Linked DNA regions of Homo sapiens: region 1 is linked to region 2. Evidence: fine-mapped expression QTL. A gene starts in region 2. The other region holds a variant in brackets. All regions are shown on one strand. Distances are from middle to middle. Region 1 holds the start of LOC107984087 (a long non-coding RNA gene). Region 2 holds the start of PHLDB2 (pleckstrin homology like domain family B member 2).

Region 1 (15,779 bases), 57 kb before region 2:
TTTAGGACCCCAGACCACTTTAGTCCAGAGTGGCGATGCTTTCCAGAACCCAGTCGCTGGGATGCATGATTCCCCTCTGACTAGGGCTGGTCTAAATGCTCCCTCCATGGACACTTGCCGATTTCTGCCCTGCTTTACTTTCCACCGTGAAAGGCAGCACTGAGTTCCAATGCAAAGTCCCGCAGTCACTGCACCCTCTCTCCCCCAACATGCAGATTCTTTCTCTGGGCCATGTGGCTGCCGCTGCGGAATAGAGGAGGGGTGGTGTTGGCAATTCAAGACAGTCTTTCCTATCTTCTTCAGTGCCTCTTTCAGTGATATGAAGTTAAAACCATGTACTGTGATCACTCACCTGATTTTGGGGTCTTATAGATGCTTTCTTTTGTGGATAGTTGTTCAAATTTGGTGTTCCTACAGTGGGGACAATTGCTGGAGGGTGCTATTTGGCCATCTTGCTTCCTGAAGATTATTTGTAGATACCACTAGATCTGCCCTCAAGAAAGGTTAAACAATTCATATTGTCACAAAAATGTATAAGAGTATGGATTTCACTGTGTCCTAAATTGCTTTATAAGGCTAAAGTGATTGGATTGGATCCACCTGGGCCATGATACACACCTGAGCTGTGGAACTTCAGTCCCTGATACATGAATGGTAAGGCATTTGATCAACCCTTGCCATTCTCATCTTTGCTTGAGGCCTGCTCACTTTGGTGTGGTATTGGAGCTAGCATGCAAAGCAGGGCCTACAGCATGTAGCTGAGGGGTGGAACCATCTGGAATGCCTCTGCCACTGTTGTCTTTAATGGCTTTCAGATGTGAAGAGGATCACATGCTCTCCAGCTGTTTTTATGTTCACTCCAGGAGCATTGTCTCAAAATTTCCAAAATATTCTAAAATCGGGGGTATAGCTCAGTGGTTGAGCATTTGACTGCAAAATATTCTCAAATCTACCAGTTCTGCACCACTATCATCATGAGTGGTAACAACTAATGTCTAGTTTTTGTTTAAGGTGCCATAATTAAAAGGTATGTAAATGAAAGAAGTTCCTCAACCCTCAGAGTTGCACTTCTTTATTTTAAGAAATCAGATAGGTATTCTTAGGTCTCCACCCTTCAGTCATGGGAAACTGCATTTCAGTAATGTTTAAGAGCTCCTTTTCCTCCCAAAAATGATACAAGAGTGGAGATGGCCAAGGAGAGGATGTACCCTAACTGGAAATTTCAGTCGTCACCAAAGTGCACATTGTCCAAGACCTATGGTCCATTTGAATGCAGTTGCTTCTGTTCTCTCTGTGGTAAGCCTGAGCTGAGGATCTTTCATTAAGAGTCTCCACACAGTCCTTCACAATGCTGCCTCCATCAACAATCTTGCCATCTCCAGTGAGTCACATGGGAGCAGAACTAGGTCCCTACAATATTTATTTGAAAGTAAGTAGGCTTTTGATAAATAATCTCACTTCCATACATCTTGAAGTCTTGGGAAATCCCACTCTCTTTCCCACCCACACTGCCTCCTTTAATCCTTGGAGCTCCTCCTCCTTTTGGATAATCATTCAACATGCCTCAGTTTACCTAGTTTTCATAAGTAAAGACCTGGGTAGGTTTTTTTTGGTTTTTGTTTTTGAGACGGAGTCTTGCTCCGTCACCCAGGCTGGAGTGCAATGATGTGATCTAGGCTCACTGCAACCTCCGCTTCCCGGGATCAAGCGATTTTCCTGCCTCAGCCTCCCCAGCAGTTGGGATTATAGGTGTGTGCACCACCCCACCCATCTAATTTTTGTTTTGTTTGTTTATTTGTTTTGAGTCTCACTCTGTTGCCCAGGCTGGAGTGCAGTGGCGCGATCTCGGCTGACTGCAACCTCCGCCCTCTGAGTTCAAGCGACTCTCCTGCCTCAGCCTCCTGAGTAGCTGGGATTACAGGCGCCCGCCACCACGCCCGGGCTAATTTTGTGTATTTTTAGTAGAAACGAGGTTTCACCATGTCAGCCAGCCTGGTCTCGAACTCCTGACCTCAGGTGTCTGCCTGACTCGGCTTCCCAAAGTGCTGGGATTACAGGCATGAGCCACCACATCCAGCCAAGACCTGTTTTCTTTAGAGGGAGAGAGGAATAGAAAAACGCCTTTTCATTTTTACTAGATGTAGTGAAGACAAAGTAAATGAAACCTAAAAAGAAACAAACAAAATACCAGAAGTGTTAAGACACTGTCTTGTTGATTCTGCCCTCAAAATATGGCCAAAATCTCTCCACTTTTCTCCAGCTCCTTTGCTGTTACCTAGTTCAAGCTGCTATCATCCTGATGTTATCCCTTTCCTAATTCTGGTAATTCTCTATATCTCCTTAAACCAATCTCTGAATCCCCATTTGTTCGCTTCTAACAGATTCTCCACAGAATAGCCAGTAGGAGATTTTATTTTATTTTTTATTGTTTTTGAGACAGACTCTCACTCTGTTGTCCATGCTGAAGTGCAGTGGCATGATCTTGGCTCACTGCAACTTCTGCCTCCTGGATTCAAGCGATTTTTGTGCCTCAGTCACCTGAGTAGCTGGGATTACAGGCATGCATCTGGCTAATTTTTGGTATTTTTAGCTGAGACAGGGTCTTGCCATGTTAGCCAGGCAGTTCTAAAACTCCTGACCCGCCTTGACCCCGCAAAGGGCTGGGATTACAAGCATGAGCCACTGTGCCTGGCCCAAGAGGGAGATTTTAAAAACACAAATCAGATTGTGTAACATCCTCAAATAGTAAGATATACAATAATAAAATGTAAAATTCTTATCAAGATTTACAAGGCCTATAAGCCTTCTAGTGTTATTCCCTATTGCTCTTCTCTAGGTTATTGACATGACTGGTTTTGTTTGTTTTTAAACTTCCTCTAACCCTTTTCTAGCTCAGGATTAGTCTACCCTTTTACCTAAAATCTTCTTTTCCTGCCTACCTTCTGGTCATGCCTCATGTCTTAGCTAAATGTGATCTCCTCAAAGAAGGCTTTCATTGATTACATAATCTAAATGAGTGACCCTGCTTTAGTTTCTCATTATATTTACTGTCATTCTTAGCATTGCCACAATATGTCATTATCTATGTGTTGACGTGATTATTGACTCAATATCTGTTTCCCCCACTGACCACATATCACCAGTGCCTAATGAATAGCAGATGCTAAAGAAATTAACAAATGAAAAAGAAAGATGTGGAACTTTGAATGGTTTAAGTTCTATTTAGGCAGACACACACACACACATACACACACAGAGAGTAGTTATTGTGGGTTATAGACCATCTCACTTTCCTAATTCTTATCTCAGACACTGAATAACTAGAGGCCCAGCCATTGCCACAGAATTTTTCCTTCATATTCTTGTTGACTGCCTTACTTGAAAGCAATTCAATCCATGTGTAAGGATTCCGTAAGACAGTCTGTCATGAGACAAAGGCAAAAATCCCTTGGTTCTATTTTTGCTACCATCTGTGTCTTTTTAAACTCCTCCTATATGTGGAACTTTTTCATTGCTTTGTTTGACTTCTGTAAATCTGCTAAATATGTTTACAAGCAACTTTCACAACCCTTCTCCACCATCACTCCCACTTTGATGTCCTACCATTTTAGAACTGGATAGATATTTAAGATGCTCTTAACTTTGCAGAAAACAGAACAACCAAGCCTCAGAGAAATGAAGTGATTTGCCGAAAGCTACGCAATTGTGATTACTCAATTGTAGAGAAATAGGGTAGGGTGCAGTGGTTTGCGACTGTAATCACAGCCCTGTGGGAAGCCACTGTGGAAGGATCGCTTGAGCCCATGAGTTTGAGGCCAGCCTTGGCGATATAGTGAGACACCCATCTCTATAAAAACATAAGAACATTAGCTAAGTGTAATGGTGCATGCTAGTAGTCCCAGCTACCTGGGAGGCTGAGGTGGGAAGATCCTTTAAGCTCAGGAGGTTGAGGCTGCAGTGAGCCAAAATCATGCCACTGCACTCCATCCTGGGTGACACAGTGAGACCCTATCTCAAAAAATTAAAATTTGAAAAATTTGAAAAACAATTGTAGAGGAATAGAAAACAAGGTGAACTTCTAAGACCTTGGCCTTTATAATTTACTCCCAAATTTTCTATCTTAAAAAAAGAAGAAGAAAAAGAATCAGGGAACATTCTAAATCTGAGAGTGCTCTAATTTTTCAAAAGATGTTTAAAAAGTCAATTTTTACCATCATTCTAAAGAAAGCAAGGAAATAAGACCTAAAAATATTTAAAACTCAAATCATCTGTATAGGAGAATTTTGGTATGTTCTAGGCTTCCTTGTGTTTACTTTTCATACTGCTTTCTGTAATCAAGTAAGATTAAGTGAAAATTACCTGGGCCACAAAACTGCAATGAAATTATTAAAGCATTTATTTAAAATATTTTCAGTCAGGTGCAGTGTATCATACCTGTAATCCCAACACTTTGGGAGGCTGAGGCAGGAGGATCACTTGAGCCCAGGAGGCCAAGGCTGCAGTGAGCTATGATCATGCCACTGTCCTCAAGGCTGGGTGACAGGGCCGGAGCCTGTCTCTAATAAAAATAAAATAAAATAAAATAAAATAAAATGTTATTTTATCTTTAATCTGAACAATTCTAGGATCTGGCATCTTTGATGTTTCCAATACAATCAATTTCAAAATATATGCTGAATTTCTACTATGCAAAGGAGTGTTGTTTAGACCTCATATGAGGGCCAGGAAGGTGAGCTAACATGGAGACAGGCTGTATGAGTCCACTCTCATGCTGCTAATAAAGACATACCCAAGACTGGGTGATTTATGAAAGAAAGAGGTTTGATTGACTCACAGTTCAGCATGGCTAGGGAGGCCCTAGGAAACTTACAATCATGGCAGAAGGGGAAGCAAACACATCCTTCTTCACATGGTGGCAGCAAGGAGAAAAATAAGAGCCAAGTGAAGCAGGAAGCCCCTTATAAAACCATTGGACCTTGTGAGAACTCACTATCACAAGAATAGCATGGGGGAAACCACCCCCGTGATTCCATTACTTCCCACTGGGTCCCTCCCATGACACCTAGGGATTATGGGAACTAAAATTCAAGATGAGATTTGGGTGGGGACACAGCCAAATCATATCACAAGCATTAAGAAGCTGGTACTCTTATTATAATGGGAGAGGCCCACATAGCCAAAAAAATCACTCTGAAATCTATCATGGTGTCAGCACAATTTGAACACAGACTGCTGTAAATAAAAGAGGAATAGTAGTCTTTGAATTTAATACTAGAAAAAAGTATTAGAAAAGAAAATTAAATTCTACTTCAGTTCTTCACATTGGTGAGGTAGACAGCTTCAATTGGTCTTTAAAAATATAGACTGATTTTCTATAAATTATTTTTTTGAAAGCTAGAAATACTTTAGAAATATGTCATCCCAATCAGAAAAAAGAAATTCTAAAGGAAGGTGAGGGAGAAGAACAAACAAGTAAATGTGAAATTGTCTCAAAGACATCAGGTTGGGTACTGAATTAAGTTTTTCTTAAAATCAAATTATAAAGACTTCCAGCAATTTCACTGCTGGAAATTTATACTGTGAATATCTTCCTATGTGAAGATATCTATTGTGGTTTTCCATAATTTACAGAAACTGAAAACAATGTTATGTATTCATCAGAAAGGACTGCTTTATTTAACTGTGTTCAACACATGTCATAGAGTACTATGCACTCCTGAAAATGAATTAGGGAGATCTATAGATACCAATATGGGAGGAGGTCTAAAAAATATTACTAAGTAAAAGGCAAGGAAAATAACTATATAGAAATATAAATAGAATCCTATTTGTGCAATAACAAGAGTGTATAAATGTACTCCTCATAAAGCATTTCTAGGAGGATACTCGAGAAACTTTTTTTTTGAGACAGAGTCTTACTCTGTTACCCAGGCTTGAGTGTGGTGGCACAATCACGGCTCACTGCAGACTCAACCTCCCTGGGCTCAGGTAATCCTCCCACTTCAACCTTCTGAGTAGCTAGGACTACAGGCATGCACCACCATGCCCACCTAGTTTTTGCAATTTTCTGTAGAGATGGGGTTTTGCCATGTTTCCCCGGCTAGTGTTAAATTCGTGGGCTCAAGTTTCTGCCTGCCTCGGCTTCCCAAAGTGCTGGGATTACAGACGTGAGCCAACATGCCTGGCCAAGAAACTCTTATTGAGCATATCTTTGGAAAATGAGACTGGGAAATTACATGAAAAGAAATTTTTATTTTATACCCTCTGTGCCTTTTGATTATTTTAAAATTATGGAGAGGTATTACTTTTGTATTACTTTTTGTTTATTAAATTCCTATACTATTATGCATATATCATTTTAAAACTATAGTTCTTTTAAGTTAAGTTTACTTGGGCAAATGTCCTAATTTCTTTTCTCACTGTATATCTTTAGTTTCTATATTCCAGTGACTTTGTTGTGGACTATGTGTTTGCCTCAGATTTTCCCATCTCTAATAATGTCATGAACTGGCATTTCTGAACTTTCATTTTTACTATTGGACTCTTTAATCCTGCTTGTTTTAAGAAGCATTTTGCAAGTTACACGTTAACTAAGATGCAGTACCTGATTTAAAGGGGACATACAATGCAATGAGAGAGACAGAAACTATTTTTACTTCATAAAATCCAGTTTTATAAAAAGCTCTGTTAATAACACTGAGGGAGTGTGAGAACACAAAAGAAAGCTTACTAAATTTGGCTGGGGAAAGAATCAAGGAAGATTTCTAAGAAGTTATGCCAATTAAGATAAATCTTGAAAAGATGAATCAGCTGGTACAAGTATAATACATTGCCTTCATAGATCATTTTGCAAGACTTAGAATTAGTGAAATTTAGACATAGAAGAGACCTTAAATAATATTAAATGTAACATTCTCATTTTTAAAATAGAGAAATGTGACTTGTTAAACAACATGAGCTGTGGGGTCAAATTCAATGGCCAATACAGAGTAGACACTTAATAAATATTTGCTCCCTTCAGAACTGGCCACATAAATTACAGGGCCCAGTGGAAAATGAAATACAAGGCCCCTTGTTCAAAAGTTATTAAGAATTTCAAGACAGTCACAACAGAGTGTTAAAACAAGCATAGGCCCCTCTGAGCACAGGGCCACATTGAAATAACCCACAGTCCTGGGGTTCATGAAGCAGGCCTCCCTCCCTCCTCTAATCTAAGTTTCAAGGGGTAAGTAGACACAGAAACTAAACAAGAACTCAGGTCTCCTTTGGATACAAAGACCTCAAAATTTTAAAAGCTCATAAACAATCTGTTCACCCAATATTTTTAACTGAGGTGATATGAAGATCTCATATTTATCTTTATATAATAGTTAATAAATTTGTGCCTTTATTCATTCATGTCACAAATATGAATAAATGTGTCCCAAGAGCCTAGGACAAGGCTGGTTCATAATAAGTATTCAGTGAAGAGTAGGTGAAGGATGGATGACCAGATGAATGAGTGACTAAACAATAAGCTACAATTGAGTATTATTGCCCATAAAAAGAAATAAAATTTTGATACATGTAACACCATGAATGAACCTTGAAAATATTATGCTAAGTGAAAGGAGACAGACACAAGAGATCACATAACATATAATTACATTTATATGAAATGTGTGGAATAGTCAAGTCTATAGAGACAGAACATACATTAGTGGTTGCTGGGGACTGGGAGGAGGGAAGAGTAAGGAGTGACTGCTCATGGATATGGGTGTTTTGTTTTGTTTTGTTTTGTTTTGGAATGATGACAATGTTCTGGAATAAGATAGCAGTGATGGTTGCACAACTTTGTGAATGTAATCACAAATATCATCAAATTCTAGACTTTATAAAGGGTGGATATTATAGTATATGAATTCTATCTCAATTTTTAGAATGTAAAACAATAAATTAACCAGGATAGAAAGATTTAAGTAACTTGCTAAAAATTGATTTGTGTTACTTGTGATGATTATGCATCTAACATCAAAACTTTGGCTCCTAGTTCAGGCTTTCTCCAGTCTATCAAGCTACTGCACAGAAAACTGCAGAGTGCCACCAGCTATCTCTATGGCTCCATGGAGCACTGTGCTTACATACAAGAAACCTCTCTTGTACCAAAGTGTAAACACAGTGGTGGCTGCATTCTGCCTCCAGAGGATCTGGCCTACAGAGTGAAGAATAAAGGGGAGACAGAGCAAGGGGAGAGCACTTTCCAAGAGCTTCCTCATTTTCTCTGTGTTGTCCTAGACACCACCCACTAGCCTTGTATCTCAGG[T/C]CTTGGTTGAGAAACCAAAATAACTAATGACACTCCTATGATGCCTTGGCAGCATTCCCTGATAACTTAGAATATTTATTTCCTGTTTTCCCAACTCTCATTTATTTCCATGCTAGCATAGAGCAAGATGACGTGTAACCTCTTGTGAAATGCTTGATATTTGTCCCTTAGAAGAGACATTAGTACTATACATTTAGCAAATAGTAAAATAACAACACTCATAGCTTGTTCTTGTGAGTAATATGTGAAAGTTTTCTAAACTGTATTTTAGTTTTAACTTACATTCGTTACAGCAGAGTGAGGCAAGCATCATGCATTCTCTCTCTTTTAAAGAAAAAGCACTAAAACTTCCATTTTTTCACTTCTAGTTTATGATCCTCTCTTCTTCCTTACCATGAGAATCAATAAGGGTGGGTGGTGTGAACACATGTTTTTTGTCCTGTCAGGAAAAGTTAAAGGTTATGGTCCTGCTCCCAAATGATAGATAATTAATCATCTTTAAAATGGCAACCTGTCACTGGAAAAGGAAAAGCAGAAATATAAAATAAAGCAGATATATGATATCAGGTAGCAACAAGGATGTCACAGATTTAATGAGTATAGGGGATGTTGTACAAAAAGTTTTATACTAATCTCTAGAAACAAAAGAAAAAGCAGAAATGATCTATATGTTCATAGTCTATATGGCCATCTCTCTAATTTTGAAATCAGCAGTCATTCCTTGGTTGGCATCTGCTACTTGGGAGCAGAGGATGGAAGAACACAGCAAACAAAAGTTTCATCGTTAAGCTGTGAAGCAGAGGGAACAGGCAGCTAGCCAAAACTTATGTGGTTCTTCAAATTTCTGATGGGGATCAGAGTGCCTCTCCCTCACTGACAAATATGGAATGGAATGTAAGGTTGCTACTAACAGGGTTCTCTGCAATCCTGAGATTGGTTCTGTTCTAGCCAAAGCTCTTGGATTCCTGTAAACTCCAGTCCAGTTGAAACTTCCCGGGAGAATGTGCCCCCACCACCCCGTGCAGAACTCCTGGACATCTTAGTGACAGCCCCACCCCCACCACTAGTCTTCCCAGAATTCGAGCTGTGAGAACACATCAATTCCTGACTCAGGCATTTGAGTCAATTTTCAGTGAACTCAGGATAGTAGAATGGAACACCATCTCACCCACCAGCAATCCCTGGCTAGCACATGAGTGGGAGGAAATCATGGGCTTTGAAATCAAACAAACTCAGGTTCTTACATTCACTAATTACACTCAGAAACTGTGTATTCTTTGTAGAATTTGAAAGTGTTAACCTCATTGAGCGTTACTTCCCTCAGCTATAAAAAATGGATATAACAATTTTTTTCTCTGATGTTGCTTTAAAACAAAGTGAGATAAAGAATGAAAATTTCCAATTTACAAATATTTCTTAACAAAGCGTAGATTTGTTCCTTTCTATTCCAAAGCTAATGACTTCAGGTGAAATGGTATCTTGAGAGTGGGGGGCATTCTGAGGAATCAGTCTCAGACCAAATTCATGTAATCAGTTGAAAACGTCCTGTTTGATTAGTCCCTTTAAACTCTTTATGTGCCTTTCCTGTCCTCTAATTCAGTTTCTAAACTTTTGTTCAGTATCACATCCCTAAAGAAGCCTTTTTAGACATTTTTTCTGATCGTCCTCTCCTCCATGAGATTTAATGCCACAGAGACACCATTATGTTGTTTGTGAACTGTATATAGGTATATCTGTGCTTTATACATTAAAATAGTAAGAAAATGTTAAACCCCCCAAGAACCAATTTTCACCCTTTGGTGGACAATATTGTTCCTATTGAGAACACATGGTCTATAAACAAACAAAAAGTTAGAAGAATCTTTGAAGAGATAATCTTTTAAAGCCTGTGAAAGAAGACATTATTGAATTCTTCTGAAGAACAGAGTCTTCCCTTCATCATCTCTTAACTATTAGAGGTAGAAAACTTTGGCGAAGTTTTAACAATTTCTTGATTTCCTATGTTTAGCCAATGATGTTCAGGTCAACCTGTTAGAAATAAAGAAAGAAGCCTCAGATGCAAAAAAGTAAATGATGATGCTAGGCCCCAACCTACTGATGTATTGTTTTCTACGCAGAGTATAAGATATACTATCTGCAGCATAAGTACAGTAATAATGGAGCTAAACCTCAAAAAATTAGTCCCACATCACTTGACTAATAGGTTTCTACTTTACTCCATGTGGATGTCCAGATTTTGCCCAATTAAACTTTCATTTCTTATTTAAAATTACAGCTAATACTTACCATTGAAATTTTGGGGGGAAAACTTTGCTAAACTGCAGTGTTTATTTGACTTTTTAAATAACTGTGATGCTGAACAGTAAGAATTAATTTGCACACAGGGCTTCTAAAAAGTGGGCCACTTCTTATTTTGAGAAAAACTTCAAAATTATGTAATAAATTTCACTGAGAAATAAAATATTGACATAAATAACAATAGAACAATATCAAGTTTTTGGTAAAATAAAAAGTTATTCATGTGAAAAATAAAATAATAGAACAATACTAGGTGCTGGGGAGGATGTGGAGCAACCAGAAGTCTTATACACTGCTAGCAAGAATGTAGAATTTGAAAGTGTCAACCTCAGTCACTTTGGAGAACAGTTTGACAATTTCTTAACACGTTAAACATACGTGTGCCTTGTTACCCAACAAGTCTACTCCTAGATATAGGAATTTACCCAAGAGAGATGAAACATAAGTCCACAAAAGACTTGTACATAAATGTTTATAGCAGCTTTGTTCATTATAGCCAAGAACAAATTATGATATATCCATACAAGCTAATACTACTCAACAATAAAAAAAATTACTGGGGCCGGGCGCTGTGGCTCAAGCCTGTAATCCCAGCACTTTGGGAGGCTGAGGCGGGCAGATCACGAGGTCAGGAGCTCGAGACCATCCTGGCTAACATGGTGAAACCCCGTCTTTACTAAAAATACAAAAAAATTAGCTGGGCATGGTGGCGCATGCCTGTAGTCCCAGCTACTCGGGAGGCTGAGGCAGGAGAATGGCACGAACCTGGGAGGCGGAGCTTGCAGTGAGCCGAGATTGCGCCGCTGCACTCCAGCCTGGGCGACAGAGCAACACTCCGTCTCAAAAAAAAAGAAAAAAAATTACTGGATAAATGCAACAACATGGATGGGTCTCATAAACAGCAAGCTTAGTGAAAGAAGCCAGACACAAAAGTATACATACTGTCTGATTCCATTTTTATGGAATGCTAGTAAAGACAAATCTAATCTATAGTGACAGAAAGCAGGTCAGTGGTGCCTGGGGCCAGGGGTGGTGAGTGGGAGTGTTGACTGGGAAGGACACAGGGAAATTTTGGGATGATGGAAATGTTTATATCTTGATTGTGATGGTGGTTGCATAGATGTATGCAAAAAAAAAAAAAAGAAGAAGAAAAAAGAAAAGATACAAGAAGTCAAGAAAGAAGCCAGTCACAGAAGACTACATTTTGTATTATATAAAATTCCATTTATATGAAATTTCTAGAAAAGGCAAAACAATAGAGACAGAGAATTGGTCAAGAGTTATCAATTGGATACTTAAATGGGTACATAAAAAAACAGGTCAAAATGTTGTTAAAGATTCAACAATTCAAGTTATCTGCTGTGAAAATGCCATAAAGAGTTAGTATCTCTAGAATCATTATAGCAGTCATCTTCTAGTGCAAGTCCCAGTACCATTTTTAACAGCCTTATTGAGGAATAATTTGCATATCATAAAATTCTCCCATTGTAAGTGTACAATTATAGAATTTTTGATGACTATATATGATTATGCAACCAGCACCACAGTCCAGTTTAAAACATACCCATCACACCAGAAAGTTCCCTCACACCTGTGGCAGTCAATCCCCTCTCCCACCCCAGCCAACCACCGAACCAATTCTCTGTCTCTATAGTTTTGCCTTTTCTAGAAATTTCATATAAATGGAATTTTATATAATACAAAATGTAGTCTTCTGTGACTGGCTTCTTTCTTGCCTTCTTGAATCTTTTCTTTTTTTTTCTTCTTTTTTTTTTCTTTTTTTTGAGACGGAGTCTCACTCTGTCACCCAGGCTGGAGTGCAGTGGCTCAATCTTGGCTCACTGCAACCTCTGCTTCCCGGGTTCAAGCAATTCTCGTGCCTTCAGCCTCTCAAGTAACTGGGACTATAGGCACGAGCCAGCACACCTGGCTAATTTTTGTATTTTTAGTAGAGACAGGGTTTCACCACACTGGCCAGGCTGGTCTTGAACTCCTGACCTCAGGTGATCCGCCTGCCTCGGCCTCCCAGAGTGCTGGGATTACAGGCATGAGCCACTGCACCTAGCCCTTCTTTTTTTTTTTAATAACTTTTTTTTTGAAATGGGGTTTCACTGTGTTGTCCAGGCTGGTCTTGAACTTCTTCCTAGGCTCAAGCACCCTTCCTGCCTTGGCCTCCTAAAGTGCTGGGATTACAAGCATAAGCCACCATGCCCAGCCCCTTTTTGTTTTCTTAAGATGAAGAAGTTCTAGTTATGGGACTTGTAAGAGACATTAGTTGCAGGTCCAGAGCACACATTTGCCGATTCTCAGTCCAGGACTTAGCTGTGACACCATGCTATTGTCAGGATACAGTATACTAGATACAGGATACTAGAATAGGAAAAAAATAAACCTGGTTTAGGGGATCAGAATGGCTATTTCTAGCCATCCAACTCAACTTATCTGAGATTCAATTTTCCCTTATATACAATGAGGATAATAATGTCTAATGCATAGCTCTGTTGTGAGGAATAAATTAAGTGTACAGAGTACCAAACATAGAGACAGGCAAACATTAGGAATTTAATAAATGATAATTGCTGACTAGAAAATCACTTAAAGTACAAATGTTCATCTTGAGACAAAGAACATAAAGAGGGAAAGTCATAAATGTTGGAAACTGAAGATTAGGGTTTAAACATTGACTTATTTAAATCTCAAAAGAAGCATGAATCCCTGCCAGGCATAGTGGCACACACCTGTAATCCCAGCAACTCTGGGAAGCCAAGTTGGGAGGATTGCTTGGGGCCAGGAGTTTGCCCAGGAGGCCTGGGCCACATAGGAAGACCCCATCTCTACAAAAAAATAAAAATTTAAAAAAAATAGCCAGGCGCGTGATTTTTTTAATTTACACGCCTGTAGTCCTGTAGTCCCACTTGTAGTCCTGACTACTCAGGAAGCTGAGGCTGAAGGATTGCTCAAGCCTAGGAATTCAAGGCTGCAGTGAGCTATGATGGACCCACTGCACTACAGCCTGGGCGACAGAGTGAGACCCTGTCTCAAAAAAGGAGAAGAAGAAGGAGAAGGAGAAGAGAATAAGGAGAAGGAAGAGGAATAGGAAGAGGAGGAGAATGAATCTCACAGATTTAAGACAGTGCCAGCTAAATTGGGAATTATTTGCTAAATGTAGTTAACTGAACATTGCTTTATTTCTTTGATAAGAGGACCATTTTATAAATAAGCTGGGTGTTTTTTTTTTTTTTTTTTGCCTAATTTTATGAGTGACTCAATAGTTCTCAGGCCTGGCTGCACATTAGAGTCACCTGGGGAGTGTTAAAAATTACCAATGCCTGGGACCCAGCCCAGAAATTCTGATTTCATCGGTCTGGAAAGGGGCTGGGGCATTGGTGATTTTAAAGTTTCTCCTGGCAATATTAATGTAAAACCATTGTAAAGAACTCACAGCAGCATTAACAGTTTGATTCTCTGGGTCTTAGGGAATGTGTTCAAAATTGTGGGGTGAACTGTCTTTAGAGTATGCCACTCTGACATCTTAGAAAGAGACAAACCACAGAGACTAGCTGTACCCACCCAGATGTTCTATCCACAGATGATCTTTTCTTATTTTTCTACATGGTGTTGTATGTTTGTGCAATCAAACATAAGGGCTTTGCATGAATGACATTAGCTATGTCTGCTCGGAAAAAGGAGGTTGCCCTTCACCTCCACATCCTGTGCTGCCACTTTTCTTTTGAGTCCTCGGTCAGAGCTGGGTGTTTAAACATATATTCTGGGTTTTTTTTTTTTTCATCTTTTATTTTGGATTCAGAGGGTACACATGCAGGTTTGTTACATGGGTATACTGCGTGGTGCTGGGGTCTGGGACATGGATGATCCTGTCACTCAGGTAGTGCAGAAAGAGTAAACATGTATTCTTAAGCAATACATGTATATCTCATGAGTCACAGCTTCAAGAAGACAAATACAATCTGCATGGACTGGTGCTCTAATTAAAAACTCTAAAGACTCAGGAGGCCTGGATAAGTCTCCTGCCCTCTTTGGTCTTCAAATATTTAATTTGTACAATTAATGGATTTCCTTTTATAACCCTAAGGTATTTTCCAGTTACTATGATTCACTGGTTGTAATTCTCATAACTAATATAATAAAGAGCAAATTCTTTATATAGCATCCATTTAGAACTCTACTACTAGTACTAAACAATTCCTAAAATAAGGGTTTATATCTCTGTTAAAGTCATTAGTACATACACATAAATAATATCTTGGTCTTTGACTAGTATATTTATTTACCAAGAAATGCAATGGCTTAATCTATACTTTCCAGAAGGAACTGACTGCTGTCATCGAGGAGGAATAGTCACATAAATAAATTATTGTTCTTCACACATAGTACTCACAAAACCTTAGTTAATTGATTATTCAATTATGATATTGTGAAACTGTAACATGACATTAATCATTACCTGGTGAAATGATCATGGGCCTTTGTGTGATGCTGCGGCTTCCTGGGAAACTCACTAATGTATTCACATAAACCAGATGTGCCAGAAGAAAGCTCTTGCTGTGGAATTGATGGAGAGTTTGTTTAAAGAAAGGAAAACAACTCTAAATAGTAAAATAAATATTTTCTTCTGCCTTTGGGTGACCTTATGCTCAACCTCTTCCCTTATGAGAATGCTGTCTCCAAGCCTGTGGTTCTATGGCATGTCAGTAATCTGAAAAGTCTATCTGAAGTCCAGCAGTGGGCCACTGCCCAGCCTCACAAGCCTGATTTCCTCTTCTTTTCTCCACAAACACCCACATACTTATTAGCTCCCTCAGTTCTTAAAATGGATTCTTTTTATCTAATGCCAACTTATCACTGTATATCAGGTCTTTGACCCTGAAATATCTTTAGTAAGTTTGCTTTTCTTTGTTGCTAAGGCAAAGCCTGGCAGATTTACCTATCATCAAGAAGCTCTGATTTGTGGTGGTGCTAAGTTTGGAAGAAATATGAATCAATGAAATAACTTACCTGAAGTAAGAGTCACTTTAAATTAAGTTTATCAGCCCAGTCACTTGTAAAGGTTTGAAGACAATAGTCATGATGTAATAAAAGAGTATGCAAACTCAAGAGTTTAGATACACCTCAAGCATATAATAGAGTAACAAATTTCAGTTATGCAAGATGAAGACGT
Region 2 (15,779 bases):
ATTTATTGAGCACTAACATAAATCTCCAGTCAGAGTTGAGTGCTATAAAATAATGTTTTTGGCCAGGCGTGGTGGCTCACGCCTGTAATCCCAGCACTTTGGGAGGCCGAGTCAGGCAGATCACGAGGTCAGGAGATGGAGACCAACCTGGCTAACACAGTGAAACCCCGTCTCTACTAAAAATACAAAAAATTAGCTGGGTGTGGTGGTGGTGACCTGTAGTCCCAGCTACTCGGGAGGCTGAGGCAGGAGAATGGCATGAACCCATGAGGCAGAGCTTGCAGTGAGCCGAGATCACGCCACTGCACTCCAGCCTGGGTGACAGAGCGAGATTCTGTCTTAAAAAAAAAAAAAAAAAAAAAAGGTTTTTACTAGTGTTCTTTGCGATTCTCCTGAGAGAAGCAATGACATTGCCCCCATCAAGTGGAAAATTAAAAATGGTCTGGCAAGTAGCTCTGAGCCCCTGCAGACACAGCCAGTTAATTGGAATGTTGTCACTGAATTTCTAGTCCATCAGTGACCCAACAGCCAAAATGGGCCTGCTCATGTGTATTTCTGTGAGCATTTTAGGATCTGTGACTACAGAGTAATCATAACTCTGAAAAAGGAAAAGGGCAGTCAGGAGTGGATGGAGAGATTTAATATCTTAATTGTGGCCCTAATGAATACGCAGTTCTCAGTTGAGCAGCCTCGACTTGAGACTGACACCTTGTTTAATACAGGAAGTAGAGTGCGGCTTTATTAAAGTCTTTAAATGTTGTGGCTGGAGCTCATATTTCTTTTTCACCCTATGCCTATATAATCATGTTGTTCCACTTCCTACATAGCCGCTGGCTCTTCCTGTTGTCCCGCAGCAAGAAGCCAGTGCAAGTTTAGAGTAAGGAAATGACATAATTAAAATGGTATTCGATGCGAAGCCTAAAATTCAAAGCCCCATCTTTCCCCTTTCCTCAAATCTGGCCCCAGCACCCTAGATCTTATCTCCTACTCCTCCCTCCCCAGCTCAGGCGGCTGTATTACTCACTCTTTCCCAAATCTGCCTTGGCTTTACTGTCCTCCTACATTGCTCATGGTCTTTCCTCTGCCTAGAAGGCCCCTCAACCTTTTTTTTTTCAATATGAAACTCACATATGTTGTCTTCCCTGTTGGACTCATAGGACACAAATACCCCTTCACCTGAACTCTTCTGTATCATTGTTTTTTAGTATATATTACATTATCATATTACAGTTATATGCTAGGCAGTATAAAACAGAGTAGGTGCTTCGTAAATTTGCCTTTAACATTCCTCATGTTCTGAATCCTGGCCCCTGCTCTCAGTTGTCAGAATTCTCCCGTGTGCTGAAGTCTGTGTATATCTGACACATCAATTTGGACATCTATCCAAATTGGGTAGATGCCCAAGGTGGCATTCTCCCTCTCTCTCTCGCTCTCTCTCTCTCCATATATATGTAAAATATATATTATATATACAATTATGTTATATGTAAAGATCATATATAATACACATATATTATATATACATAAATTAATATTATACATAGGATTATATATTATAATAATCCTTATGTATAATTATCTTTATACATAATATAATTATCTTTATGTATAACATTAAGGACAAATTGAAATCAAGGTATGGTATAACTGGAGGGATGATGAAAGTCAGATGAAAGGAAAAACAAAGAAAACCAACAGAGAGAAGAGAAGCTGAGTTCTCTTCAGTATCGAGGAATACTGCTGTTAAGGTGTTGGTTTCTTTTTTCCATGATAAGCAGATAAGATACAGAGAAACTCCTTGTTTTAAGCCCACTACGCAGGCAAAGTAGACCAATTCAGGGTCCTCAAGTGATAAGAAAAGTGAGCCAGATAACACAGCTGGGATAGGTTAATCTAAAAGACACACACACACACACACACACACACACATACACACACACCATCCTTTTCCTGCCTGATTACAATACAGACTCACAGAAAAGATTGGGGGTAGGGCAGAAGGAGAACGTTTAATGCAGAAATTAATCAGATGTTCCAAATAGATTTACATTTTTCTCATAATTAGAGAACCTACCTTGTAATTGTTTAAAGATAAACCAGCACATGGGGATAATCATTAAACTTGAGGAGACAAAAATTAGGTGTTTCCCTTTTTATGCCCCTAGGAGGTTAAAAAGTTATTTTCACTTTAGTTTTGGTTAACATTCTGGTATTAATTTGATTAATATGTTATTTATACTTTATCTATTTAAATATATATTAGAGAATGTATAGTAAAAACCAAATATTCAATAAGGTTATTGGAATAAAAATACATCAACATTTTAAAAAGGAGAGGAAAGCAAAGTCTTTATTACCGTTACACAAAAATTTAATGGTAAGCTTGACTCTGGGCTTCCTGGCAACAAGGATACAAAGAGAAACAGTGGGTTACATAGTTTCCCTTAACAACAGTTGCAGATCCAATGTGAAAATAGATGAAGATGACTTTTCTAAGAAATGAAAGTACATTCATTTTTTAGAGAGACAATTTATCTAAGTACTAAAAAGAGTGTGTAAATTGGAACTGAACTTATATAGGACAGTCAGTGTATAACTCAATGGTCAACATCATTATCAATAGTTCCAGAAAGGCAAACGTGGTTGGAAACTACTCTGCTGGGTGTTCTTTTTGTGCTGTCTGTCCTCTGTGCAAGGAATGGTACCTACATTAACACACTGGCTCATAAAATGTGAGTTCAGCCAGGTGCGGTGGCTCACACCTGTAATCCCAGCACTTTGGAAGGCCGAGGTGGGTGGATCAACTGAGGTCAAGAGTTCAAGACCAGCCTGACCAACATGGTGAAATCCCATCTCTTCTAAAAATACAAAATTAGCTAGGCATGGTGGTGCATGCCTGTAATCCCAGCTACTCCAGAGGCTGAAGCAGGAGAATCGCTTAAACCCAGTAGGCAGAGGTTGTGAGCCAAGATCGTGCCATTGCACTCCAGCCTGAGCAACAAGAGCAAGACTCCATCTCCAAAAAAAAAAAAATAGTTCTTACTTTTCAGAATAGAAGTTTGCTTCTCAGTGAAGATAAATAATGCACTCAAATTACTTGGCTATTGTATTAGTCCGTTCTCACACTCCTATAAAGAAATACCTGAGACTGGGTAACTTATAAAGGAAAGAGGTTTAATTGACTCACAGTTTCACATTGCTGGGGAGGCCTCAGGAAGCTTACAATCATGGCAAAAGGCAAAGGAGAAGCAGACACTTTCTTCACAGGGCAGCAGGACAGAATGAATGCAAGAAGGGGAAATGCCAGACACTTACAAAACCATCAGATCTCATGAGAACTCACTATCATGAGAACAGCATGGGGGAAACTGCCCCCAAGATCCAATTACCTCCACCTGGTCCCACCCTTGACACTTGGGGATTATGAGAATTACAATTCCAGGTGAGATTTGGTTTGGGACACAGAGCCAAACCATATTAGCTAGCAAAGGGGCTGAATCAGGGCTTAAAACCCAGTTCTGCCTTACTTCACAGTCAATGATTTTTCCACTGCACTTTGCAAGTAGAAACTTCTTGATTCATTAAATCATCATAATATTAAAGCGAACTTCAGCACAAACAATTGTTCCATGAGTTAAACTGCAGTAAGATTGAAATGAGTTAATAGCTACAAAGATTTGTTAGGCTATCATTGCAGAGAAAGGAGCAAATATACAGATTCAGGACATAAAAAGTTAATCAAATCCAACCGATCTTTTCTAATAAAAGAGAACAATAGCAAAAATAATTACAAATGGAATAACATAAATAATTCATAATATCACTGTATGTGTTTCAAAGTGAGCAGGTATGTACAAACCTACTCCCAAAGACCACAGAAGCTGAAAAGCCAAAGAAAGAGGCTGACAAGTCCAGTTTCTCAGAAAGAAACATTTAATAGAGACTTATGAACAGAAGCCATGTCCCCAGTGGCTGTGAAAAAAGATGGTGCATCTCCACGCTGTCACTCCCAGAGTCAAGACACATAAACTAAAGGAAAAGAATGTGTAGGAGAATTGAAGTCGACCCCTTGGGGAGAGGCAAGAATGCTCTGTGAATCTGCCCATGGGCAGGATTTATGGTCAAGGTTGTTTTGACCCAGGGGCAGGATTTAAGGTATCAGTAGATAAAGTACAAATCTTAGAGTAATTCCCAGAACTCGGGTTAATCAGAAGTCAACAGGTAATCTTCCATGGAATTAGGGTAAAAAGAAAAAAAAAAGTCAGCATGGCAGATTAGCATCCAAGATAGAGTTGCTTTAGCCTCAACACTGTGCAACACTTTAAGGTTCCCCACCTGAGAGGGTGAAGGACACAGGAAAGTAAGATCAGGGACTGTAACCACTACAGATCCTGGAGAGGCAAACAAGAAAGGTCTGCTGTTTAGTTTACAACACAATATCTCTAGTGATAAGGAATGGCAGAGCGCAGGCAGGACTCTGGTCTGTGATTAAACAGAAAACTTTATTATAAAGAACCCAGGAAATAGAAAAGGTAGAAAGACTCTCTCTTTCTTCCTTCCTTCCTTCCTTTCTTTCTTTCTCTCTCTCCCCCTCCCGCGCTTCCCTCTTTTTCCTTCCTTCCTTCCTCCCTTCTTTGCTTCCTTCCTTCTTTTCTTTCCTTTCTTTCTTCTTTCTTTCCATCACCATTACTAAAAGAAAGTCTGGTAATATAATAATAACAATAACAGTTGCACTTTATTGAGTGCTTTCTATAGATGTTGAGGTCTGCATTTGTCTTTTTTTTTTTTTTTTTTTTTTTTGGCGACAAGGTCTCACTCTGCCACCCAGGCTGGAGTGCAATGGTGCGATCATGGATCACCCAGCCTCGAATTCTCAGGTGATTCTCCCACCTCAGCCTCCTGAGTAGCTGGGACTACAGATGGTGCACCACCATGCCCGGCTAATATTTTTGTATTTTTAGTAGAGACGGGTTTTGCCATGTTGGCCAGGCTGCTCTGGAACTTCTAATCTCAAGCAATCCTGCTACCTCGGCTCCCAAGGTGTTGGGATTACAGGCATGAGCCATTGAGCCTGGACTGAATTTATCTAATTTAAGACTTGCACCTTCAGGGTGGTCTCGTCTATCTTCAGGCTGCTATGGCCTTATGAAAGCTATTGAAAACCACTCTAACTCATCAGGAATGGGAAACTTTGCTGGGTTTAGTCACTTGAAAAAGTCACATTCAATGACTACTTTTTGAGTCCCTTCCATATATAAGTCTTGGAGTATGATTCATACAAATATGAATAAAATGACTCCCTTTGCCTTCTAGGAGCTTGGCTATCCTAAGAGATAGAGATGCTAGCAGATAAAACAAGGCAGTGAAGGGAGGCCAGTGAGGATTACTTTTTGTCTAGTAATTTGGAATTATTCATTATACAGAAATATCCCCTAGTAACATTCATACTTAGAAAAGAGGTAGAAGGTAGCATTAAAGACAATGAACTCAAGAACAAGTGCTCAAATTCTGCCTCTACCAACTTATTACCTGAGTGACAACTGACTTCTCTGTGATTCCTTTTTTACTTATAAAATGGGAGTAGTAACAAACAGTAACTCTCACCGCATCAACTAATATTGTCCTATATTTGGAAGAATACCGGATACGTATACAATAGTAATTATTGCTCTCAATAAATTTAGCTATTTTTTTCTTAGACATAAATATTGGCAATCTAATTATGGCCATTCTAAATGTGCTGTGTTGGTGCACATTCTCCTTAGACCTGAAGGGAGAAAGGTTGTCTCTAAGATGTCTGTGTAGTCAAGTGTATTTCTGGCATTGCTCGAGGCAAGGAAATGTTTGCAACACAGTGCTTTGGGTCAAAGCCATCATTTATTCTTGAGCACCATTTACATGTCCGGTATCCTTGTAGGCACACTAGGGATATAGCACTGGAGAGAACAGGCAAAACTCTCTGCCTGCCTGCCTTACATTCTAGTGAGGAGAGACAGACAATAAACATAATTTAAAAAGTACATTTTACAATATAGTAGAATGTGGTGACTTTGTCAAAAAGTAAATTTAAGTAGTATGGAAAACACATTTTAAACTTTTAAGTAGAGTGGTCAGAGCAGGCCTGAGCAACACGGTGACATTGAACAGGGTCTTGAAGGAAGTGAGGGAGTGAACCATGCAGATACTTGGGAGGAGGGAATTATAGGCAGAGAGGGCAATTAGAACAAAGGCCCTGAGATAGAACGGATTTACCTAGGAATCTAGTCTACGAGGCCACTGTGGCAGGGGCTAAGTGAGTGATAAAGGGGAAGTAGGAGGCTGGGCACAGTGGCTCACACCTGTCATCCCAACACTTAGGGTGGCGGAGGCAGACAGATCGCTTGAGCCCAGGAGTTCAAGAACAGTCTGGGCAATGTGGTGAAACCCCATCTCTGCAAAAAATTCAATATTAGCTGGGCATGGTGGTCTGCACCTGTGGTCCCAGCTATTCAGGAGGCTGAAGTGGGAGGATCACTTGAGCCCAGGAGGTTAAGGCTGCAGTGAGCTATGACTGTGCCATTGCACTCCAACCTGGGTGACAAAGTGAGGCCCTGTCTCAAAAAAAAAAAAAAGAAAAGAAAAGAAAAAAAAATTCCAAGGTAATGGAAATAAAATGATTGTATGTTTATGGGGATGATCCAAAAAAGAGGAGGAAAGAGATGACGTGGGTGAGAAAAGAACATTGCTGGAGCACTTAACTGTTTAACTGTTGGATTGATCAGTGTATGTATGCTTCTGCAGGGCAAAAACTCAGGACAGGGAAAAGAATTCCTCTAAAAAACCCGGCATTCCTAACAAACATATGAAAAAAAGCTCATCATCACTAGTCATTACAGAAATGCAAATCAAAACCACAACGAGATACCATCTCACGCCAGTTAGAATGGCAATCATTAAAAAGTCAGGAAATAACAGACGCTGCAGAGAATGTGGAGAAATGGGAACGCTTTTACACTGTTGGTGGGAGTATAAGTTAGTTCAACCATTGTGGAAGACAGTGTGGCGATTCCTCAGGGATCTAGAACTAGAAATACCATTTGACCCAGCAATCCCATTACTGGGTATATACCCAAAGAATTATAAATCATTCTACTATAAAGACACATACAAACGTATGTTTATTGCAGCACTGTTCACAATAACAAAGACTTGGAACCAACCCAAGTGCCCATCAATGATAGACTGGATGAAGAAAATGTGGCACATATACACCATGGAATACCATGCAGCCATAAAAAAGAATGAATTCATGTCCTTTGCAGGGACGTGGATGATGCTGGAAACCATCATTCTCAGCAAACTAACACAGGAACAGAAAACCAAACACTGCATGTTCTCATCATAAGTGGGAGTTGAACAATGAGAACATATGGACCCAGGGAGGGGAACATCACACCCTGAGGCCTGTTGGGGGGTGGGGGACAAGGGGAGGGAGAGCATTAGGACAAATAACTAATGCATGCGGAGCTTAAAACCTAGATGAAGGGTTGATGGGTGCTGCAAACCACCATGGCACATGTATACCTGTGTAACAAACCTGCACGTTCTGCACATGTATCCCAGAACTTAAAGTATAATTAAAAAAGAAATTTAAAAAAGACATTCCGTAGGTGAGGCTCTCCCTAAAAGTCAAACTTTTACTTGCACATATGAAAAGTGTAATCATTAAATAAGCTATTTCTTCAGTGACGGTATACTGAGTTCTGCTCATGGTGCCAAGTACTTTGCATATATTATTCAGAAGCTTATTAGCTGCCCTGCAGCACCAGTATCATTTATTGCTGCACTCCAGGTGAAGAAATTGTTGCTGGGAGCTACAACAACTTGCCCAAAGCCACAATGATCATAAGTAGTTTGCGCTTCGTTGTGCTCTTCTTTGCTGGTGTGAGATTCTCGAGGGCCAATGTCCTTCATCTGCGTAACTCTAGGGACTCGCCCAGACCTTGGAAGAGGTTCACATTCCCGCGTGCCGAGATTGATTATGGGCCACCCTCGGTCTCATTCGTTGACTTCCAATAAAGCATTGGCTGGTGGACCTCTACATCAGCATTGTTTTCATTGGATATAGCAACTCAGAAAAATATTGGGGAAAATATAAAAACTTTCAAGAGATATGATTGCAAGAAAATCAGAATGAGTTTAAAACCCTCCTGACCCCAGTCCTTAGCTCAGGCCGTTCTCCAAGGATTTTGCAAACCTGCTTTCTGACGCAGCTGGTAAACTTGCCCCGGGGCGAACTGTCGGAAGGAGGTGCGGTCACCTGGAGTTTCCCAATAGATACTTCGCTGTCTGGTGAGGAAATCATCACCCTAGGACGTAAACCCTCCCGCCCTTCTTTCAGCTCTTAAAAAAAGCCTGCCACGAAAGTCCCTACTGCGTTGCTGCGAACGTAGCTTTGAGAAGCTGGCGCCCAGTGATGGGGCAAACAGCCATGCCCTTCCAGCAGCCGTGAAAGCCCCAACAGCAAACTGCCTGGGAGCGGGGCAGGTCACCAACTTCGTTGCTCGAACTCCCTGGGTGCCCGCCGCGGTGGTTACAAAGGGGGTCAAGAGTGCCGGACCCAGCCGCGCGGAGCCCACCATTGCGGCCCGAGGGGGACCCGACGGGGGCCCGACGGTGTGGCGTGGCGCAAGGAGCGCGCCTGCCTTCTCTCGCCGCCGGGAACGGGCTGCACCAATGGCCAGGTGAGGAGGCGGCGGTGGTCGCCCGGGAGGAGGGGGTGGTGCCGACTCCGTGTGCCAGGAGTGCGTCCCGGGGACGCTGCCTCCCCCGCGGCCGAGTTGGTTGCCGCCGGTTGCGCTGCGGAGGGTTGGGGGCGGAGAGGAGGCAGTGGCTGCCCGGGCCGAGGAGGGGCGCGCTGACTGCTCACCGCGAGTCAGGAGGGGCCGGCGGGCTCACGGAGGGAGACAGGGTGGGCGGGGGCAAAGGCTAGGCGCTAGGGCGGCGGCGCCAGCGTAGAGCGGCGGTTTGGAGGAAAGATGAGACGGTGAGTGGGCTCCGGGGACACAGAGTTTCTTTGCTTCTTTACAGGCTGTAGGGACAAAAGCCCGGGCTGGGGTCGGCAGTGCCCAGGCTGCGCAGCTGGGTGGGTGGGGGTGGCGAACCCCGTTGTGCATGACTCTCGGGGGGCTGGGTAGATCTCCGGTTGAGGGGATCCCGGGGAGGGAGTGTCTGGTAGGGAAGATGCTTCCAGAGTGATTGTAGAAAACAGGCAGAATGTGGGGGAACTGGGGGCAACTTTTTCCAGCAACTCTGGAATGCACATGGAGAGAGGGATGGGGATCCTTGGGATAGCTCCCTGAGAAAGAGAAGGTCCGCTGCTGGATGGTGTAGGGCGCGGGATTCAGAGAAGACTCCCTCCCCGCAAATATTTGGCTAGCTGCGCTTCTAGTTCCACTTTCTTTCAAGAGTGAACCTACGAGCTTTAACCGCCAAAAGCGGCTGATTTCGATTTGGCCTTTGACCCCCCACTGAAAGTTTACAGTGTGGCCGTCTCGGCACCCCTAGAGATAGCAGCTGGAAGGCTTGGGGAGTATTTTAACCCTCTGTTTCTCCAGCTCCCTGCGCGGCGGAGGCGCAGCTGAATCGTTTGCTGGTTCGCTTAATAACTTAGCCCTAGCAGTCATCACTTATTAAAGCGCCGAGGACCTGGCTAACTCCCGCCACCACCAGGAAATTAAAAGGCTGACAGGCTGTCCCTCCCAGGGTTGGGGTTTCCTGTTTGAAAGAGCTTGAGAAGTCAAACTGCTTCGCGGTTCCTCACTTACCTTTCTTATGTAAAAGAGGGAGCGACGCCCGCAGCTTTTTCTCTCGGTAAACTACCCGTGGCTGGAAATCCTCCGGGCGCCTGGCCCTGCCCTCTTCCCTAGAAATCTTTATCCTGCAACTCTGAAGTAGCTCTAAAGAGCTCTAGAATGCACAACTAGTCATAGCCAGGCACAGCTGGGAGTGTAACTAGACGAGGCATAAAAATGTGGAGTCTTTTTAGTGTAAATATTTGTCAGCCACATTTCCCTTCGTAATATGAACGTGTAAGTTACAGATGTAGGTTTTCAAGTATTGGACGTGTAATTTTAAGCTTCCTAGTTTGGTTTAATTTGGGCGTTCGAGATATGTCTCTGGGATTCTAACGTTTGAATTCGGCTGGGAGAGATCTAAATGAGGTCCACAGTTTCAGAAGGTTAAACTTTTGCCCTGTGAACACTTGAATTCTTGGTTCCTGGTAGGTTAGCAACAGAACTGTCGGATTTGGGATAAATAAACCGTTAGAGTTGCCCACTATTTTAACAGAATGGCTATATCTCTCTTGCCGTTGCCTTCAATTGTGTAAATATTTGTTTGAATAAAGAGCGAAGGTTCTTTGAAAAGTAACAGTTCTGTCTATTCTTGGCTCCCCTTTCATATCCTCTGCTTAGTTATTTAAAAGGATTTTCTTTGCCTCTTACATTTAATGGGGAAATTTAAACATTACATGTACTTAAATTCTGTAAAGTTACCAAACCATTTATAACTGGCAAATTATTTAATGACAAGGAAGAGTTGAGTTTGTCGTCTTAGTTGGCTAATGTAGCCTTCATCTCTTGAGACCCAGAGGTTTGCAGATCTCAGCCTGTCAGAAGTGGAAAAATGAGATGTCTGGTTAAGAGTAGTCATCATTTCAGTCAATTTGCAGGCCTCAATCTGTTTTATGCAGCTGGCAGCTGCTGTTCTTTTGGTGTTGAGATCGTCTGCCACGAGTGTCGCCTGGATCCCTGTTTGAAAAGGGGAGGAAAAGATACTTGGGAAATTGGACTGAGAGCTTGCTTACTCCTCCGTTCAATAACTGTGACCAAGCTGAAACTCGTTAGCAACCTTTCCAGAAACGTTTTATTTACCATGTGTGTTTGTTGTGTATGCAAGAGAGGAAAAAATAAGCCAAAGTGATTAACCAATCTCTGGTTTTCCCTATTTTCTTCAAAGCTCCATTTTGAGATCTATAAGCAAGGGTTGACTCTCGAGTTCATTGGAGAAGTTACCTCGGCTCACTACAACTTCTGCCTCCTTGGTTCAAGCCATTTTCCTGCCTCAGCCTCCCGAGTAGCTGGGATTACAGGCGCCTGCCACCACACCTGGCTAATTTTTCTATTTTTAGTAGTGACAGGATTTTGCCATGTTGGTCAGGCTGGTCTCAAACTCTTAACCTCAGGTGATCCACCTGCCTTGGCCTCCCAAAGTACTGGGATTACAGGCATGAGCCACCACACCCGGTCTCCTTTTAAATATTTTTAAAGGAGTAGTTAACGTTATGGCTTTATATCCTGATTTTCAACCCTTAGCAGGGAGGCAGTGCTATGGTGCTGTGGATGGCTTAGAGTGACAGTGGCTTTGTACATTTTCTAGGTGGAGTACCTGTGCCTTATGAATCTATCTGTAAAGTCTTGGTGTACCAATTGTTGATTGTGTAAATGTCACTCTTTTGAAACAAAAACACCTAAGTGATGTGCTTTATCTTAAAGTCCTGACATACATTAGAGCTGTGGTTTTCACTGGGAGAGGGGTTTTGGCCCCCAGAGGATACTGGCAACGTATTTTTGGTTGTAGCAACTGACAGGAGGAGAGTGCTACTGCCATATAGTGGGTAGAGGCCTGGGATGCGGTTAAGCACCCTGCCATGCACGGGACACAAAAACAATTATGCAGCCCCAAACCCTGCACTACAGTATTGCCTGGGGGAGTAGGTTAACAAGATTAGGCATCTTAATCTGATTTGGATCCTCAAGAAACTTGTTTAACTGTGTTAAACAAGAGACCCTTATCATAGAAGCCGTTTTGTATGCAGCAGATTCTTTTGTCCTTGCCATTTAGAGTCTTAATATACCATAGAGGTCGAGGAACTTGTGTTCATTGACAACTTTGAGATGGATTAAAGTCATGGGATTTGGGAGCATTAGAGCACAAGGGAGCCTCAGAGATCACTTAATTTCTACCCCTTCTTTTTATAGATGTAAAAAACTGAGACACTCAGAGCTTTAGGACTCATAAGGTCTCAAGCGAGCTAAGGGCGGGCAGACAAAGTTCTAGGTACAACCCAGGAGTTAAAAATTTTAAAATAGAGATTCAGGCAAATGGGAACAAAAAACAAAACACACTGGACCTGACCTTGTGTAAAAGTTTCAAAGCACCATTCCCTGTGAGAAAATAAATAAATGCTTCGATGGGGGAGGGGTGGCATTAGCCATAGAGACTGTGGGGCACGTGCCTGGGTGCCCCAGTCCCAGAAAGGGGTAATTCCATTATATGACCTGTGACACTCCACTTCTGATGCCTGTACTGTCCTTTCCATGGCAAAGTAGGCAACAGATGGTTCCACAGACATAGCAGATGTTGCTTTTGAATCCAGGTACAAAACAGAACATTTGAGATTTTCTGTTCCTCCCTGCCTTATCGGTTAAGAGTAGAGTACATGAATGGATAGGGCTGGCTTGGACAGAAGGGAGAATTACAGAGGCCTCCTGAGTATGGAAGAAAAAAAGACACCTGGCATATATGGAAATGAGCAAGTGTTGGGGAAATTGTGGGAGAAATTCATAAGCTGATGAGGGGATATCTAATATAAATTCAATTGCATAGAACTAGGATTAAGAATCAGAAGACAATTCAAGCTTAGCTATTCTTTCAGCATGTAGAACAAAATAACTATGGGGGTAAAAGGAACCTTAGAAATCCTCTTATCTGAATCTTTTCCCTCCAACCAACTAACTGGGTTAGATAGCGGCAGAATCTGCAAGCCTCCTGTTCTATTGTACTTTCTCCTGCACCCACAGTCTCTACCATTCCATGTGTTTACCTAATGGGAAAGAAAATGATAGTAAAGAAAGTTATTGTTAATTACTTGGGAGAGTTTAAAAAGCATGGTATTTGTGAATGGCTGTTTATAGAAAGGAGTTACCTTAATGAGTTTATGATTATCAGAAAAGTTGTACACCATAGCCTGATTAATTACAAACATGTATACTCTCCTGTTTACATTGCTATGGTTAGCCATTAGGCTCATGATTATAGATTCTAGTTCTGGGTGCCAAGCTGTCCTCCTGTGGTAGTTATTTTATCTAATACTCAAATCTGACAGGTTCTGGCCATATAGGAAAGTTTTTAGTATGCCTTTGGTGGGAGACATAAAACCTCTGAAAAGTGTTAAGATAGTTTCTTATCATTTTGACAACTAGCCAAAGGGTGCACCTCAAAGCCAAGTACATAGTGATATATTTAGAAATGACTCAAGAGTGATAGCCCTTTTAAGGGATCTGCCCCCCCGCAGGTACTATGCAAAAGGGGTGTAGCAGTCTTTTCATTATCATCTTTCATCTGGCCATTCTTGTTACTGTTTTTCAGATGATGGGAGAGGAGACAGGAGTAGTTTTTAAAAAAATAACTGTTGGCTAGAAATATTTATTGGGATTTGATTAAAGTAACTTGTCTTTTAAAAATAAATGAAACCAAAATTGTTAGCTCAGATTTTCAAATCCCTTCAAAGTAAACATTTAGCAAGGCAGAACTTCTCTCTATGTTCATCCAGGAATTTGAACCTTCTGGGAGTTAATTTGCTTACAGTTGTTTTCATGACGCTTAAGGATGTTTCTTAGACATTGCAGAAAAGGAGCTTTGTGCTGTATCTGCTTTAAAGGCAAGATAGTTGTCTATAGCAGCTAGTGGTCAATAAGAGAAACCCAAGTGTAAAAATCATTTTACTGTTGTGTGGGAAACTAGAGGTTGTAGGTAATTGCTATACAAAGAAACAGATTAATAAGATATAGAGTAACAGGGTTAGTCAAAAAGTTTTTGAGAGGATTTTTACAGGAGATACTTGTTTAGTGTGTTAGGTTGATTTTATTAGATGAAGTGCTTTTCCTTACTTTACAAAGTAAAAGGAAAGAAAATATTGTGTATGCCACTGTTTATCGATGGCCTTAAGCCAGGTCAGCTTTTTCTGAGACTTGCTGCTAATTCAGTGGGAATTGGTGTTGATCATCTTAGAATGTTTTGTTTGCACATTGCATGTGACTGCCCTAGATGGCAGTATGTTCATGGAACTAGCCTATGAAATAGCAAAAAAGTTAAAGATTACAAGAGTTTTCCAAGATTTCTTTCTTGACCACCCTACTGCTAAAACAAGGAAAGATAAAGGCAAAAGAAACCCAGCTCCTACATTCTTTTGACCAGTGCAGACCCAGTGTGAATAGTGCCGCACAGCCAAGAGATATTCAGAGGGGATTGAGAAGTGATGTCTGGCTGCCTCACTGCTTACGTCATTGCAGAAGTAGCTTTTCAAAAACAGCTTAAGATTTATTAAGGAAACTGCAAGCCATGGGAATGCAGACAAAACCTTTCTTATACATCATGCTCAATCAAATACCCATATTATATTACATTACCATAACTCTGACCAGGCCTTTTTCCCACTATGTTATGCTAAAACAATTTACCATGCCTTTGGAATGTCATGGGCAACAGTCCGGTGAAATCTTTTCCCAATTAGGTAGCTGCCACCTTATCACTAAAACTATTTCTGTTCTGTGGTCATTTCCATTTCCTGCATTATGTAATGAGCACTCCTGTGTTATTTAACCAGTATCTGTGGGAGTCCAGAAAGTTGGAGCAGAAAGAACATGTAGTTCACTCTCACCATGTTGAGTATGGAGAAACTCCTGTTGAAACAAAATGAAGACAGGCGAATTGACGTGCTCCAGATCTTAGTTCTGTTAGCAGAACCAGAACTAAGATGGATCTTCTGACTTGCTTCCCTGGCAGCCTATCCAGTGTTCTTTCTACTAGATTGGCCACTGTAATAAAAATAACATCCTAACGTAACCATTTCCTTTATTAGATCTTTTGGCCAGAGTTATTAAAAAAAAAGCATTGATTAAAATTAAATTAAACTTAGTCAATTGTTTATCTTGACTTGTTCAAGTTATTTCCCTTCTTTCAAGCAGTAAGTGGTCAAAAGGTAGATAGCATGGAAGGGAAAAATTAAGTGTTTTATAATACTCATTCTGCACAATCAGCTGCTAAGTAATGAAGATATGATATTATCATAATTATTATTTTTACTTTACAATATTTTAGAAACCTACCCCACCCACTCATTTTTTTTTTTTTTTTTTTTTTTTGGAGACAGAGTTGCTCTGTCACCCAGGCTGGAGTACAGTGGTGCGATCCAGCTCACTGCAACCTCGGCCTCCCAGGTTCAAGTGATTATCCTGCCTCAGCCTCCCGAGTAGCTGGGATTACAGGCATGCACCACCACACCCAGCTAATTTCTGTACTTTAATAGTGATGGGGTTTCGCCATATTGGCCAGGGTGGTCTCAGACTCCTGACCTTTGGTGATCTGCCCACCTCAGCATCACAGAGTGCTGGAATTACAGGCATGAGCCACCGAGCCCGGCCTCATGTACTCAATTTGTGATGTAAAGCGAAATGCATTACAAACATGGAAGATGTGGTTGACCTGTGTTTGTTCCACCTCTTGTGAGCCTGTTTGTACCCTGACTATTCCCAGTTCATAAATCTTGGGTTAGGGAATGGGAATTCCAGCAAGTATTTAGGTCTGGGGAATGTTACTTTGGAAAAATTAAATATTACTCTTAAGGGAGTGTCTTTTGATCAGTAGTGTGGGATGGGGCAGGATGGCGGCAAGATCGGAGAGTTTCCCTCCCATACACTCTCCTCAGCTTCCAGTTAAAGTCCACGGAGGTGGTTTCA

What was found.
Region 1: its variant is fine-mapped to the expression of PHLDB2 in spleen (GTEx, PIP 0.99).

Annotation. Positions count from the first base shown.
Region 1 is chr3:111,794,119-111,809,897 of GRCh38, forward strand. LOC107984087 (a long non-coding RNA gene) reads right to left here and starts at 4,477. Exons shown (of 4, transcript XR_001740848.2): 1 at 4,435-4,477; 2 at 353-488. It overlaps LOC105374040 (a long non-coding RNA gene), which reads right to left. Exons shown (of 4, transcript XR_924333.4): 3 at 15,066-15,163; 4 at 5,060-10,330. It also overlaps a transcript of PHLDB2 not described here. The variant T/C (reference allele first, on the strand shown) is at 8,303.
Region 2 is chr3:111,850,854-111,866,632 of GRCh38, forward strand. PHLDB2 (pleckstrin homology like domain family B member 2) reads left to right here and starts at 8,412. Exons shown (of 18, transcript NM_001134438.2): 1 at 8,412-8,723. It overlaps LOC105374040 (a long non-coding RNA gene), which reads right to left and starts at 9,963. Exons shown (of 4, transcript XR_924333.4): 1 at 9,807-9,963. RefSeq lists enhancers at 8,234-8,820, 8,821-9,405, 9,736-9,845 and a silencer at 8,870-8,929.